2 separate regions of the Homo sapiens genome follow, and region 2 is linked to region 1. The links come from fine-mapping of genetic effects on gene expression. Tissue or cell type: uterus. Region 1 holds a variant in brackets; the other region holds the start of a gene. All regions are shown on one strand. Distances are from middle to middle.

Region 1 (8,000 bases):
TCTATTTCGCTGTGTACCTGTTAGTCCTTCCCCGACCCCGAAACAGATGACATTGTACAATAAAGGACTTTGAGAGGACCGCGGGACAGCTGTGCGTGCGCCCACCACAGCCCCTCCCCAGACCGGCCACACACGGGCGGCTGGGACCCCCTCGCTTTCAGGCCATCGTGGGTGGGGGTGCTGTCACAGGTCAGATTGTGGGCCTCGGAGTCTCCGTCGACCCCGAGGGCACGTGGGGTCCAGGCGGCCGCCCTGGCACAACTGCCCTCTCACCTAGTCCCCGTCCCCTCTGAGCTGGGCAAGGCCACGGTTTCCTCTGCGATTCAGGGAGCTTGCAGTCCCTGCTTGTAGCACTGGATGTGGCTGGAGCCCTGGCTTGAGGCCACCGTGGCCTTGGGCCGGCTGGGAGGAAGCCCCACAGAGTGCAGTGCCAGGACAGAAGATGGGATGGGGCCTTCCCGGCTGGGCCTCCACGGGGGCCTCTGAGGCCGCACCTGCGGTTGGCCAAGGTCCAGCTCCCGCACGGACAGACCTGTCCCCAAGGGGTGGATCGCCAGCTCCCTGAGGAGCTCCTGGGTTACTTGCGGGGGAGAGGGGAGGTGGCATCAGAACCCTGGACCCCAGCGAGCTGCCCCGAGGGAGACACAGAGGTCCCTTCTCCCCACCTGACCTCACAGGGGGGCCTTCCCAGACCCCTGTTCTGGGGATTGGAGGTGCCATGCCGCATGCCAATTTCATGGAGGCACAGCCCCGGGTGGGCTCCCTGGGGTGCCAGGCCACCACCTCTCTAGGCTTCCTTAGGCCATCACATCCAGCATCTCCAGCCCATCCAGGCCCTCATAGGTCATCTGGGTTGTGGTCCGAGAAAGGCATGGGCTGGTAGGGGCTCCAGCCGGCCCCTCCCCCCAGCCTCCCGGCACAATTTCCAGGTCCCCATCTCTTCTCTCCACCCCTCGGGAAGTGCCCCCAAGCTTGGGGCTAGAGCAGACCTGGCCCTCCCCTCACTGCCACATAGGGGCTTCCTTCTTCCCTGCCCAGGGCCCCAAAGGGCTCATAGAGCCCCCACGGAGGGTACAGGGCGGCCTCTAGACCACACAGGCCTACCCCAGCAGGCCTCAAAACACCCACTCCACATGGGCCTGGCTTCTCCATCCAGGCTAGGCCCCTGGGTGTTGGGGGCAGTGGGCAGGGGCGTGGGCCGAGGGGAACATGGGCCACAGCAGGAGTGGGTGTGGACTGGTCCTGGGCACGTGCATGTTCTGGGGGGCAGAGGATGGGCGGCTCCAGAGTGCCGCTGGCAGGACCCTGAGACTGAGTCAGTTGTGAGCACAGAGGACCAGCCCGGGGTCCAGTGCAGTGGGGAGGAGTTGGGGAAGGGCTGGGCCGAGGTCCTGGGTGGGCCTCGAGGACCGTCCCTGTGGCCACATGGGCACTCTGCCTCGGAGCTGAGCACCGCAGGGCTTGATGACGGCCCTCCCGACCCTCCCGGAGACTCAAAGGCACTGCCTCCAGCAGCCACGTGGGGGCAGGGAGGGGCGGTGCTCTGGGCTCAGTTGTTCCCCAAGCTGCCCCAGGCTTCTCTTTGGTGTTTACCTTTGGGTATAAACTTAGAGCTTTAAAGGGCTCTGGCCACCTGCTGAGCTAGGCCAGCCGTCACCCAGGGTCAGAACCCTCTTCCCAAAGCTGTTCCGAAGGGATCCAGGGGTCTCCTGAGTGCTGGGGGAGAGGAGGCCTGGGTGGGAGAAGCTCCCTGCCTCCATGCCAGGGGAGGGCAGAGGTGGGGGGAGAGAGATGGCCCTCCCCACCCTACCTCTGCATCCTCAGGCTCAGGACTCCCAGCATTCACACCTGCCTGGGCCTCTGCAGGGACCACGGGTTAGCCCTCCAGCCTCAGCTCCCTGGAAGGGCAGCTCCCAGTACCCCTGTTCCTGGCAGTGCCTGTTCCCAAGCCCCCAAGAGCTGGGGTCTGGGGAAGATGAGCTCAGGGAAGGGGATGGGGGCTCCCCCACCTCCCTAGTTTCTGCCCCACCCTGTGCCCCACCCATTTCTGCCTCAGTCACCAACAGCTGTCCTTAGGTCTCAGCTGTGCTGGTCTCCCCCTCCTCCTGGAGCCACAGTCCTGCCAGCCTTCACCCACCAGCCTGTGGTCAAGGGGGCCGACAACGGCTGAGCAGCCTGACCTTGTCTGGGGAGGCAGCGGCCAGCACGTCCTAGGTGGGGAGTGGAGACTGCTGACCAGTTACTGCAGCCACTGGTTCAGCCCCGCGTGTCCGGCCCCAGCCCTAAGCCTAAGCAGGGACCCGGCTCCTCCCTCACTTCACCCCCAACCCGCCCTCCTGCCCCAGCGCAGTGCTCCAAGGGCATGGCCAGGGGCCCCCAAGCTGGACACCCCCTCATGGCTGCATGAGGGGCTCTACCCATTGCCCCAGCCCACAGGCCCAGACCCCGACCCCATCCTGGCCCAGGCCTGGCCACCCCCACGTCCCAGCACCTGCTTTGACTCCCCCACTTCCTTCTGGCCAGGAAGAGGCAGCCCCCACCCACTCTGTTCTCGTAGCCTCTGCACAGCTGCTGGTCCTGCTCCAGGCGACCCGGCCTCTGACCCCACGGAGCCTCCGCTGGAAGGAGGTGCGGAGCCCACAGGGACACCCCCAGGCCAGGGCCGCCTGCCCTCCAGAAATGATGGGGTCGTGACCCTGATGTGTTGGCCCCGGGGGGGTCCCGACCCTCCCCACAGAAACTGCCCTGTCTACTCCACCCACAGCGGACCCTGGGGAGGGGGTGAGGACAGAACATTTGGGGACTGGATGCCCGCCCAGCCCTGCCACCCCCCGGTCTCAGTGACGCACATGGCCATCTGTGCCTGGCCTGTGCCAGGTGGGTGGGGGCCTCAATGGCTGGGGCACCCAGCCCTGGAGCAGGTGGCCCCGCTGCGGGTGAGGACCGGCAGGGGCAGCCTGGCCAGCCTGGCTTGTCTTTGCAGTGTCCTGTGCTGGGCCAGGTGTCCAGCCGGGCTGGGAACGGACCTTTCTCTCCCATGGCCGGGCCTGGCAGCTCTTACTGGCAAGAAGTGCAGCCCAGGCTCGGCCTCCATGGCTCCTCCTGCAAAGGAGGCCTGTTCCAGAAACTTCCAGGGACAGGGAACCGTGGGGAGGTGGGGAGGTAGGGGCTGGAGGCAGGGGCTCCCTGGGTCAGCCCAGGCAGCAGTGTCTCCCAGTCTCCTGCCCCTCCCCGCAGCTGTCCCAAGGACACTCTTAGGTATAGGGGTGCCAAGTGCCCAGGCCCCGTGGAGATACAACTGGCTGGCTTGGAAGGGTGGGCTCCTGGCTGCCCAGCTCAGCCCAGAAACCAGGATTGGGTGCCATCCAGATCTAGAACGAGAGACCAGGGGTGTGGAGGGTCGAGGGCCGTCTAGAGGCCTTGGTGGGGGCCGGGCAGGCCACCAGCCCCGAACCCTGGAGGGTCCCGTGTACCCTGGCCAGTGCCAGCTGCTGCCCCCCTGGCCTGGCCCTGCCAGATTCTCCCTGACAGCCCTGTCCCCCTCTCTGCTGTCGGAACCTTCTGGCCCTTCCTGCAAGGTGGGCCTGGCCAGGCTGGGGTCTTGGTGGAGGGCAAGCAGGAACCAGGGACAGACGATGGAGCTCTGCGTGTCCTCCCTCATGGAGATGCCCCCAGCTGGGTGAAATGACCCTGGTCGGTGCTATGCCCAGGTTAGGCCAGGCTACCAGTTGCAGATGGACACCGCCCTGCGCCCTGCTGTGCCCACCCTGGGGCAGGAGCTGGGCAAGGTACTGTGTGCCCTGTGGTCCAGCCCCACTCTGCCCTGCCCCTGGTGGGGCCTGCACCCGAGGGACGTGATGCCCATGCCCCAGCTTCCTGTTTCTAAGGAAAAACAGTCCTAGGAAAAAGGCTGTAGCGTCGGAGGAGCTGCCCTCGCCAGGGCCTGGGGGGATTGTGGGTGGGGAGGCTGTCCCATTCTGTGATCCCAGGGATGCCAGGAGGGCCGTGGCTGGTGTGGCCGGCACTGGGTCAGGTTTAGGCCGGGGTCTCTCGGGTCTCGGTGTTGGCCCCTCCGTGTTTAGAATCCTCCCAGGCCAAACCAAGGCGGCCTCCAGGGTCACTCCTG[C/A]ACAGGACAGTGGCCGGAACTCCGAAATGACCACCGACCTGCGCTGGCCGCTGAGGGTCCGACAGACCAAGGCTCTGGGCCCCCTACCCCATCCTGCGCCCCGTGCGCGAAGTCTGCGGGGTCACTGCTGCGCAGGACAGAAAACCCGCAGTGGGGCCCCGGCCTGTCCCCGGCCCTGGCGCTGTCCTGGCATCCGGGGAAATCCTGTTTCTGGCTCCAGGCCAGGGCCTGCCCCTCACCCTGGAGAGGCCCCGTCGGAGGCCGGCCTCGCGGGGGAAGGGCGGTGGCGGAGGAACTACCCAGGAATTCCAGCGCCGGCTCCGAAACCTTCCCAATCCCGCTCCTTCGCCCGGGCCGGAAGCCGCGCTGGGGGGGTGGGGAGGGGTGCACGTCCCGGGCCCCGCGCCGCGTCCTCAGGGCCGGGGCGGCCTCCCCGACGCCCGTTCCGTTCCCAGTCCGGGGGCACTGGGGGCCCCGAGTCAGGCGGAGCGCGCCGGGCCCCACTTCCCCACGCGGAGGGGCAGCCCCGCAGCCTCAGGCTCCCCCCCGCAGCCTCAGTTTCCCCCCCGCCCCCGCCGCCTCTTCCGCTACCCCACCCTCCCTGCCGTCCGGGGCGGCGCCCCCCAGATTCGCGGCCAGCGCTGGATTCCGGCGGGGTGGGGCGGGGGCTTCCGGCCCGGGGGCGGCTGGTCCGAGCAGCAGGCCCGGGCTGGGGGGCGGGACGGGAGGCCCTGGGAGCTTCCTGCAGCGTGGGGGCGGCTCCCGAGGTGGGAATTCCGCCCCCGAACCGGCGGGCTACGTGCGGGGGTCTCAGAGGCTGCGGCTCCTCCCGTCGGTGGGCGCGGCCGCCCCCAGAGGCCGCTGCGGGAAGCAGGGCGGCGGCAGGAAGCGCCCCCCCCGTTCCCCCTTCCCCCCCGTACCCCTCTTCCCCCGCTCGTCCCCCCTTCCCCACCCCAGGCCCCGCGGAGGCGGCGCGCGTTTCACGGGTTTCGCCGCCCGCGGCACGGTGGGGGCGGGGGCGGGGGCGGGGGCGGCGGTGCGACCCCCAGCGGTGGAAGCGGGAACTGCAGCTCGGCCGAGCTCGGGGTTGGGGGGTCCCTGCCAACCCTGCCCTCCCGGAAGGTCCCAGCCTGGCGGGTTCGGGTGCTTTTCTCTCTGGGGCGCGGCCTCCCTGTTCTGCTCAGTTGGGGGTCCGTTCCCGGGAAGAACCACCACACCCCCCATCCCGGCCCGCAGGCCCCAGCCGCCAAGTCGTTGCTGGGGAGGTGGGCGCAGGCCGCCCTCTCTCCGTGAGCCCACTCGCCACAACCCGCAGGGACCTGGGGGACTCGGTGGATCCAACCACAGGAGACCATGAGACACAGGCGGTCTCGCCGAGGCCTGCCGCTTAGAGCTGTCTCTCCTCCTCACGGGCCCCCTGGCTCCCTGCAGGCCTGGCCTCCTATCTCCCTCAGGCCATCAGCCCAGGGACCCCCAGCCCAGGCACCCCACCCATGCTCTGAGCTGTGGGCCTGAAACCCGCCCTCCTAGCAGGGAGCCTGGCTGCGCCCCAGGCCGCTTCTGCTTGGAGCTCCGTGGAAGGAAATGCCCTCAGGTTCCCAGGCACTGAGCCTCCCCTCCCGCTAACCCCATCAGGGGTATAGCAGCCCCGTGGTGCTCAGCCTGCCTCTCTCTGCCTGGGCAGGACCGTGGAGCCCATGCGTGTCCTCTCTCCTGTCCCCAGATGGAAGCCGGCAGGTGGGGCCCTAGCAGGGGACATGCTCGACGTGTGGGTGGATGAGGACCCAGTGGGGTCAGGTCTGGGGCAGCGGGACAGGGTCTCCAGGACGGGGCCTGGCTGCAGATAGGCCGGAGAACGGCTGCTGGTTCCCTGAGGCCACTGGGGAGCCAAGATGCAGTCCCCGAGGGGTTTCCAGGGAGCAGCCACTGGGCTGGGCAGCTGGGCGCAGGGGCAGAGAGAGCTGGGGCTGAGTCCTGGCCTGCCCCCTGGGGACTCCTGGGCTGTAAGGCAGGGGTGGGCAGGGCCTGGACCCTTGTTGGGGGGCCCTCCCTGGCTGTGGTCCACCTCAGGAGCCAAGGAGGCTGGGGGGCTGGTGTGGGCAGCTACCTCTGTTCCCCACGGGTCCTCAGGAAGGCGGCGCCACAGACTGAGGAGGCCCTGCTGGCCCTGGAGCTGTGTTCGGAGCCCCCACAGCCTGGCTCCTGGCTCTGGTTGCCGTGGGCGGGAGGTGGAAGTACAAGGAGAAGGAGTGTCCAGCATTTTCACGAGTGCCACCGCCAGAGGTCAAGCTGAGGACAAGAGGGCAGCCAGGCACCACCCTGGCCCCAGGCAGACTCCCCAGGGCTCGCTGAAGGGCCGGCAGCCCTGGGCCTGGCAGCTCCCCTTGCAAGCCCCAGCTGGGGGCTCTGTCATCCGGGAGGCCCTGGGCCTGACCTTCGCCGGCTGCCCCTGGGCCTGGAGGCAGGACACGAAGGGGCTGATGGGTCTGTGGTCAGCCCCGAGCGCACTTTGCTGAGCTGTGGTCTTGCTGAGCCAGCCCACAGGCCCAGCGACTCCTGGCTTACTCAGCCCAGGCCTGAGGCTCCCAGGGAAGGCCAGGCCAGGCTGTGCAGGAACCTGCCTATGGGGCTGGGCACCTGGCCCTCCAGGAAGGCCTGCCTGCGAGGAGCTGCTCTGCACAGGGGTCTCGACCCTCCGCTAGGCACCAGGAGCGAAGAGGGAGAGGCTTTGGGAAGGAGACACAGGTCAGGTGGGTCCTGTCTGGTTCCCGGCTGTGGCCTGGCTACGCTGTCCTCTGCTAATGCCAAAGGGGCCTGGGCATGGTCTGGAGGGTGTCCTGGCTGAGGCCCTGCTGAAGGGGTGAGGCAGGCATCCCCCCCCATCCCCACCCCGTCTCTCTACCTCTCTGTGTGTCTCTCTCTGACTCTCTCTGTGTCTGCCTCTCTCTGTGTATCTCTGTCTTTCTCTGGCTCACAGACTCCATCTTCCATGGCAGCAACTGGCTTGATGCTCTCTTTCGGTGTCATCTTCGCTTGGTAACCATGGGTGGGAGGAAAGGAGGAATGGCCACTGCTCCCTTGTTTGGAGGTCAAAGGAACAGGAGGGGCACAGGGAGGTAGGAGGGGCACAGGGAGGTGGGCGGAGCTGGGACCTGGAGCTCTCCCCAGGACTCTTCCTGGGGCAGGAGAAGGGGCTGGCTGGGGTTGGGGGCTCCACCTCCAACACACTGTGTTTGTGAGCTTGCCAGAGAGCCGCCACCTGGTCCCTGGCCTCAGGTTCCCAGGGGTGGCACCAGTAGGCCGTGGCCTGCAGGCCAGAGGCAGACACAGCCCCTACCATGCCCACCAGGTCCGGAGGAGCCCAGCAGAGCCCCTGCCCAGCCTGGGAGGAGGCCTCAGCCCAGCTCATGTCCCGCTGTGTTGGCAGTCAGACGGTCACGTGGCATGGCCACCCTGGCCCCAAAGCCGGTGTGTTTCCACCTCCAGCACCAAGAGCTGCCCGCCCTCCCCCTGACACGCAGAGGAGGCCCGGGAAGCCTGGGAGACCATGGCTGCCGTGGGCGGGGCTGGTGGCCGTCACCACTTGCTCCAGGCCTTTGGGACCACATCTGTCCCCGGCCCGCGCCCTCAGCGCAGGGACGCTGCTCGGCGGCAGCAAGTCTGTCCACTCACTGAGGCCCCAGTGCCGGGTGTGAGGCTGCTGCCCGGGAATCAGCGCCCAGTCCCGGACGCAGGCCCAGTGAGCAGGGGCAGGCGAGCCGAGGTCAGCCCACGGGCCCCCATCCTTCCACTTGACCCCGTCCCGGGCTCGGCACTCAGGGACTGGTTCTGGCCTGCGTGGGGCAGGCGATGGGAAAGGATCTTTCACAGGGGG
Region 2 (8,000 bases), 890 kb before region 1:
AAAGACCCATAAGGGGCTTCTCTCGCTTTACGATGTCTTTTTTTTTTTTTCTCCTCTGGTTGATGAAATGCCAGGGTGAAAGGGATAGCCAAACGGACTAAAGCACAAGTGCCACTCTAGTTATTCGGCAGAGTGCCCAGTACAGGTCCACCACAATACCACCACACATCCGCTCACATCCGCTCAGGGATGAACAAGGGCTGACTGATTGATAAGCTCTCGAAAATTCTTAAGCTCACTGCATCCCTTCCAGTCTCCAAGGACTGCTAAGTCTCCTCCCTGCCGTGAGAGACACGAAGGGAACTTAGTTTTGGGAGACGGAAGCTGGATGGCCCTCGGGGGCTGACCCGCAGGGACTGCAGAATGTAGCGGGGAGAGCTTGGCATGACTTGCTGCTCCAGGCTGTAGAATCCTGGAAAAGAGCTACCGTGCAGCCCACGCCTGGTCGACTGAAGGACCACCTTAGTGGAAGGGGGACAATCAGAGCCTTTGGCCTGCCATGTGCACGAGCATCACAATTGCTTTTGTTTAACATCAGATGGAATATCTGATCCATTTCAACCAGGCATTTTGCATCTTGGTATGCTGTCTTAATTGCCAAAGTTTGTTTTAAGTCTTAAACTTCCATGATCCTCTAGTAAAATGAATGTTTCCTTTAGCACCTATTTTTATTAGTTTTTAGACCAAAGAAAGCTAAACACCATTTTATATTTAATAATGCTTCTTGTATGATTTTTATACCAGATAAGCTAAATTTTACCTTTATATTAGTGTGTTATTAATGTTAAACTTAATTTTAATAAAACCTTGTAGACATATTTATCCAATTTTTCATGTTTGACCATAAGGTAAGATTTTATAGACTCTTTTTAACCTTTTATAACTTTTGTTAAAGAGCAGGTTGATGCTTTAAGAAAAACCTGTTGCATTTTTACTTTAATGTCCAGTTCACAGAAAAACTGGACGATACCTTTTTAACTTTAGTTAACATGTTTACACACAGAATTTTCTTTACAATTTACATTTTAAAACTTGCTTAAACTCTTAAAAACAATAATTTTTTTAACCTTTTAATGTAGGTAAAAATCCATATTTTTATGCCCCTTTATAATTTTTTTTACCAAAGGTATATTTTACTTTTCTTGTACACCTTGCACATAAACTTTTTTTTTTAATAGTACTCAGGGGCCAGGCGCGGTGGCTCACGCCTGTAATCCCAGCACTTTGGGGGGCCGAGGCGGGCGGATCACGCGGTCAGGAGATCGAGACCATCTTGGCTAACACGGTGAAACCCCGTCTCTACTAAAAATACAAAAAATTAGCCAGGCGTGGTGGCGGGCGCCTGTAGTCCCAGCTACTCGGGAGGCTGAGGCAGGAGAATGGCGTGAACCCGGGAGGCGGAGCTTGCAGTGAGCCGAGATCACGCCACTGCACTCCAGCCTGGGCAACAGAGTGAGACTCCGTCTCAAAAAAAAAAAAAAAAAAAATAGTACTCAGGAGGCCTTATTACTTTTAAATTATACAACATTTTTTGCATAAATTTTTTATAACATTTTGTTTTACAACTTTCGCCGACAATTCTTCAACATATCTCAACTTTCTGCCTTATTACAAACTTTTAAACAACCAGTTAATATATTTCAGGACAAGAATTTACCGTATAACATGCTTTTCACATAAATTCAGCCTCCCCTTTTTTTTTCTTTTTTAAAGCGAACTTTTTTTATGTCTTTGGACTAGACTGTCTGAGGCCACAAGATTAAAAGTTACCATTAACATGTTACACTGTTAACTTTTAGCAAACTTCGCTTTTGTTGAAAACCTTGGAAGTTTGGGATTTCAATTATCCTTTGCTATTAATAAGACCTTGTTTAGTCTAAATTAACTTAGAATTGGTATAGATGGCCTCTTTTTCTCTCTGCTGGTCTTTCCTTGCCTCTGCCAGCCGCTTATGCTGCTGTTCTCTTAACTACCGTAGGGGGGAGGGGGTCTAAAACCTGCTCTAACTGTCCATGTACGGAAACTGGCCTGGGTGCCTTGGCTTACACGTTACCTTGTGTCATACCTTTGAAACAAGGGACCTGTCCAGGCTTCCTTCTGATGGCCAACCCACCTCTAATGCTGACAAGTCTATTTCACACAAAGTTGTAAGTTTTCCTGGTGTCAGAGTAACACCGTAATCTCCCTTAAATTCTTTCTTGAAAAATTTTTTTTAACATAGTTCCTAGTGGGGTGGGCTTATCTGTGCCTGACCCACGCTTCTTCAAGACAAAACACCACGCTCACACCACAAAACAAAAAACAGGTAAAAAGGGCACACACACACTTTTGCAGTTTACACCAAACCAAAATCAAAACCAAAATCAGAGTATCCAGAAATCCAAGCCAGGTCAAAACCAAAACCAAAGTATCACATGATCTCAGTCAAGTCAAAACCAGAACAAAGGTGCTAATGCAGGCACGCCGTGGGCGATCAGGCCACGCGTCTACTCAGGTGGAGTGGGGCAAGTTCCAAAGACTAGTCTTACCAGGTTTCAGATGTCCGGACTCCAAGTGCCAGTTCCTTCCCGGTGTTCAGCCACTGTGTTAATCCACCATGGGGGCCCGTTATGGGCTGCTCTGGCGAGGTGTTCCACCGAGGCAATTTCCTACCCGGGAGCGCTCTTTAGCTCACGTCACTCAGGCTGGCCGGAGTCCCCCGCAGGGATGCTCCACGGGGCAGGCCTAAGCCGCCTAAGGGGCTGCCTCGGTCGTCTGTCAGTTACCTCGTTTCCCAGTCAGGGAACCAAGAAATGTAGCAGGACGAGCCGCAGACAAAACCTCTCAGACACCCAGTTGTAGAAGGAAGGGCTTTATTCAGCTGGGAGCATCGGCAAGCTACTGCCTTAAAATCCGAGCTCCCCAAGTGCACAATTTCTGTCCCTTTTAAGGGCTCACAACACCGAAGATTTCACATGAAAGGGTCGTCATTGATTTGAGCAAGCAGGCGGTACGTGACAGGGGCTGCATGCACCGGCGGTCAGAGAGAAACAGAACACGGCAGGGAGTTTCACAAATGTTCTTCTATACAATGTCTGGAATCTATGAATAACATCGGTTTCTAAGTTATGAATTGATTTTCAACTACTGGGTTTAGGCCAGGCAGGCGCAGGCCTGGTTTCGGGCCTAGCGCCAGGCTGCCTGCCTGTCTTTGGTTTTACTTCCTTGTTGTTTTTTCTTAAAACAGGTACTGAGTATAAAACACTATGAGAGGGTCTCTCTTCCCTCATTGCCACAACTCATTCTTTGTTGAAGTATGGAGAAGGCTGGAGCTGCAGGGTCAGTGGGCCCTCCTGGGAGCTGGGGGCCATCCCTGGTCCAGCCAAGGCCTGTGACTGCAGCTCAAGCCACATCCCCTACTTTCTCCCATCCCCTCCTCCGGAAGCCTCTTCCCTGATGTCCCCTCCAGGCAGGCAGCCTCAGCCAGAGAGCCTGGAAATCACTGGGGCGGTGGAGCCTGGAGCCTGCTGTCTGGCTCAGCCCGTGGACTCTATGCCCTCACACTCCTTCTCCCCCCCTCCAAGTTCAGGCAGCGCCTGGGGCAGGTCCCCCTCAGGCATCTGGGCCACCTCGGCCCACTGCGTCCGCAGAGTGGGGCTGGCCCCTCGGCTCAGCAGAAGCCCCACGGTAGGCCCATGCCCTCGCTCTGCAGCCAGGTGTAGGGGGGTCTTTCGGAGCCAGCCGGTAGCATCCACCTGGGCACCCCTGTCCAGCAGGCAGCCGGCAACCTCCACGTGGCCTTCCCGAGAGGCGTGATGCAGGGGTGTGAGGCCCAGGGTGTCCCGCGCATCCACCTCGGCCCCCTGGGTGACCAGCAACTGGACGGCAAGCAGGTGTCCTCGGGCGGCAGCCCTGTGCAGCGCAGAGCGGCCATGCCTGTCCCTGATGCCTGGGTCTGCCCCGTGGCCCAGCAGCACCTCAATGTCCTAGAAGAGGAGAGAAAAGCAGGGGCCGGCCTCAGCCCGGTAGGCGAGGGGCAGAGCCACCAGGCGTTTGCCCAGCCCAGGCCTCTTCTGTCCCCGCAGCGGCCTGTCTCTCCTGACACCACTTCCTCATGTTGTGAGGCCGAACCCAAGGCTGGCCTGCTTGGAAACGTCCACTTTTCCCCCTAAGAGTCCTTAGAGCAAATCCAAGGATCTGCAGCCAACACCCTGCCCGCTGCCCAGGAACGGGGGTCTCAGGCACAGGCCCGGCGCTGGCGGAGAGTCTGTTGCTGCCACCAGCATGAAGCCGAGCCCCGGGCCTCGGATCCCGCCCTGGTCTCCACGGGACGGGGCTACACCGGAGGGGCACAGCCGGGGGCGCGCTCAGGGCCTTCGTGCCTGGACACCGTCCCCCAGCCTGGCTCCAGCTGCCCCGGTGGCACGTCTCTGGGGATCCTGGCCCTGCGCCCCCTCCCATCACTGCCGGGCGGAGGGCGGGACGTACCTGGGAGCGGCCTAGGGCGGCCGCCAGACCCAGCGCTGTGGCCCCCGCGCCATCCCGGGCGTCCACCCGCGCCCCGCGCGCCAGGAGGAAGCGCAGCGCCGCCCCGCGCCCCGCAGCGGCAGCCACGAGCAGGGCGCCGTCCAGGCCCGCGCCGCCGGCCGCCAGCAGCTCCAGCACCGCCAGCCGCCCGCCCGCGGCCGCCCAGTGCGCCGCCGTCCAGCCGCGCGCGTCCTCCGCCTCCGCTGCCGCGGGTCCCGGGCCCGGAGCCTCCAGCAGGCGCGCGGCCAGCAGCGTGTGGCCCAGGGCAGCGGCCCAGTGCAGCGGCGTGAGGCCCGTCCCGGAGCGAGCCGCCGCCGAGGCCCCGCGCTGCAGCAGCAGCTCGGCCACCCGCGAGTGTCCGTGCCAGGCGGCCTCGTGCAGCGCGGTGCGCCCCGCCCGGTCCACCGCGCCCACCGGGGCCCCTCGCTGCAGCAGGAGACGCACCAGGGGCGCGTGGCCCCGCAGCACGGCCAGGTGGAGCGGGGTCCGGCCTGCGTGGTCCCTGAGGAGGGGGCAAGGGCGTCGGCGCGGGGGTGGACCACTGACCAGAACCCCGCCCTGCCCCACCCCGTCCTGCCGCCCACCCAGCGCTGGGACCCCCGTCCTACCCCATCCAGAGAAGGGACTCCTCCACCCACCCAGTGCTGGGACCCCCATCCTGCCCCACCCAGAGAAGGGACCCCTTCACCCCCCAGCGCAGGTGCACCTCTCCTCCACGCTGGCACCTTGCCGCAGCAGCTGCGTCACCAGGCCTGCAGGGCCCCTCCACACGGCCTGGAGCAGGTGCCCCCAGCCCTGGACAACACTAGGCCCCTCTGTCCTGGTTCCCAGGGCCTCTTCGGAGTCCAGCTCCATCCACCGCAGTTCCTGTTCCTCCTCCTCCTCCTCTCTGGGCTCAGGCCTCTGGGAGTCCATCTGGGGGGGAGCAGGGATCCTACATCCACTGTGGAGGCCTCTGGCCTGCCCCCAGCCGTGTCCCAGGCCAACTGGAGCCCCCCATTCCAGTTACCACTTAGCCTTCAGAGGGGCTTGGCTCTGTTACCCAAGGGAGCTGGCTCAGGAGCTTTCTGCTCTGGCTGAGGGTCCTCTGTAGACGGGTTCTGGCCGAGGCTCAGCCTGGTGACCCTCTTCACAAAATCCCTTCTGCAGGCTTTGGGGTGGAGTGTCTGCTGCTGAAAAGCTGAATGGTGGCAGCTTCAGCCTTGCAGGGGGTGGGAGAACACAGCTGGTCCCCTGGGCCAGGCTGAGGCCACCTGACGCTGTTTACTCAGCCACTTAGGAAGGCCCTGCCTTCGGGCACAGCCCCCTGTCCAACATACTCCCTCCCCTGCTGGCTGCCAGGGCCCCAGTTCGGCTGCCCTCCTGGGGAACAAAGGCCAGGCGGTTGGGGAGGACAAGCAGGAACATGCTTGTGGACGAAAGTTGCTCAGACGCCACCTCCCCCAGGAAGCGCAGCCTTGGATGTACCCCGATGTGCCCCTGGAAGGCCTCACAGGGCTCTCCATGGGGCCCACCCTCGGGCAGCCCCCTCACCCACTCCTGTCCCAGCTGGCTAAGCCCACCCAGGGGTGGGTGCCGGCCCCTCCTCCCGATTCCAGGCTGGGGAGGAGGGCAGGGTGAGGTTCTGGCCTTCCTTTCTGTAAATGCTGGACAGGACAAAAGATTCACCAAGGACTCCAGGCAGGTGGCCTGGAAAAGAGGGTGGCGCTGGCATGGGAGGGACGAAAACCCTTTGGGGACTGGCTGGGGCAAGTCTGGAGCCAGGGAAGGGACAGATGCCTGGGCAGGTGGGGGCGGGGGTCGGGGGGCAGGCGGGAGAGTGGGGAGAATCCCTGCTAGGGTGCGTCTGCATCTGGAAAAGCAGCTCTGCCCCAGCAAGGCCTGGGGCAGCGGGATCCTGGGGGCCTGGGGCAGGATGGGTGGGGCTGGTGCTGAGGGCATCTTCCTGTCTCCCAGTACCTGGGGCCAGGCAGGAGAAGGGAGCATGGCTCTTTGGGGTGGCTGCAGCAGCCTGGCCCCTCCAGCGGCTGCACGGGAAAGGTAATGAGGGCTACCCATTCCCACCCCAGCCCCCTTCAGCCTCCCAGGTCCCCAAGGACAGGGTCTCCTGAGGGCCCTGGTCTGGCCTCCCCCACTCCCTAGAGGACTGCCTCTCCAAGGGCCCAAGGGACCAGGGGCCCCATCCCACCACCCCCCAAGCCACACAGACCCTGCCCTACAAACCTCATCAGGCTACTCATCCGTCACCTTCCCAGATCCTGACCACAGGTGGATCTGAGGCAACGTGCGACTCTAACCCTGTTTTAGTTTGTTCTTAGCATTTATCACTACAGGAAAGTATCTATGTGTTTATTTAAATGTCTGCCTTCCTCTTCTAGAAGGAAAGCTCCGTAAGGCTGACCGGGAAAGAAGCGAGGAGCTCTGGGGGCTGGGTGGAAAGTCCCGTACTCATCAGGGCCAGGGAGGCCACAGAAACTACCTCACGCCAGCTTCCCAGGGGTACAGCGGCTAGAATGGACCTCGAGGAGGCCCCTCCCAAGACTCCCGTCTCCCGGGTTCCACCGCAGTGGGGGCAGCCACAGCTGCCTCTGCAATGCTTGTAGGACCCACACACAGTGGGGCACGGAGGGGCAGAGGCCGCAGCCCCTTTGCCATGAATCCAAAGAACCTGGAGTGATTCTGCAGAGACGTTCGAACCAGAGCGACTCCATCTTGAACAGGGGCTGGGTAAAATGAGGCCGAGACCGGCTGGGCCGCATTCCCTGGAGGTCAGGCATTCTTAGTCACAGGATGAGATCAGCACAAGATACAGATCACAAAGACCCCGCTGATAAAACAGGATGCCGTGAAGAAGCCGGCCCCAAACCACCAAAACCAAGACAGCCAGTCCTCACTGCTCATTATGTGCTGATTATAATACATTAGCATGAGACACGCCCACCAGCACCAGGACCATTTACAGTTGCCATGGCAATGCCGGGAAGTTACCCTAGATGGTCTAAAAGGGGGAAGAACCCTCACTTCCGGGAATTGCCTGCCCCTTTCCCGGAAAAGTCCGGAATAATCCACACCATGTTTAGTACATATCAAGAAACAACAATAAGTGTTCTCGTCGGAGTAGCCCAGGCCGCTGCTCAGCCTATGGGGCAGCCCTTCTCTTATTCCTTTACTTTCCTATTAAACTTGCTTTCAGTTTACTCCGTGGACTCCCCCGAATTCTTCCTTGTGTGGGGTCCAAGAACCCTCTCTCGGGGTCTGGATCGGGACCTCCTTTTCCGATGACAGTCCCTGGGACTTAGTAGCAGTTCAGCAGTGTTTGTTGAATGAATAAGCGAGAGACCTGGTTGGGGGGCACTTAGAAAGCAGAGGTTTTGCAACTTTTTAAAACTTTTTATTTGTATTTTTGAGACGGAGTCTCACTCTGTCACTCAGGCTGGAGTGCAGTGGTGTGATCTCAGCTCACTTGGAACCACCATCTGCCAGTTTCAAGTGAT

What was found. PIP is the estimated chance that this variant, and not a neighbour inherited with it, causes the effect.
Region 2: it holds the start of ANKRD65-AS1, and the variant in region 1 is fine-mapped to the expression of ANKRD65-AS1 in uterus (GTEx, PIP 0.98).

What each region holds. Positions count from the first base shown.
Region 1 is chr1:2,310,136-2,318,135 of GRCh38, forward strand. SKI (SKI proto-oncogene) reads left to right here. Exons shown (of 7, transcript NM_003036.4): 7 at 1-78. It overlaps LOC124903824 (a long non-coding RNA gene), which reads left to right and starts at 4,860. Exons shown (of 4, transcript XR_007065362.1): 1 at 4,860-4,893; 2 at 5,811-5,863; 3 at 6,257-6,876. RefSeq lists enhancers at 3,039-3,692, 5,173-5,926 and silencers at 4,492-4,611, 4,702-4,861, 5,012-5,301. The variant C/A (reference allele first, on the strand shown) is at 4,127.
Region 2 is chr1:1,415,585-1,423,584 of GRCh38, forward strand. It overlaps ANKRD65-AS1 (ANKRD65 antisense RNA 1), which reads left to right and starts at 4,582. Exons shown (of 2, transcript NR_187360.1): 1 at 4,582-4,980; 2 at 6,885-7,703. It overlaps ANKRD65 (ankyrin repeat domain 65), which reads right to left and starts at 5,692. Exons shown (of 4, transcript NM_001145210.3): 1 at 5,549-5,692; 2 at 5,213-5,421; 3 at 4,468-5,008; 4 at 2,836-3,965. The coding sequence starts at 5,421. The coding sequence ends at 3,516. RefSeq lists enhancers at 2,665-2,744, 2,912-3,361.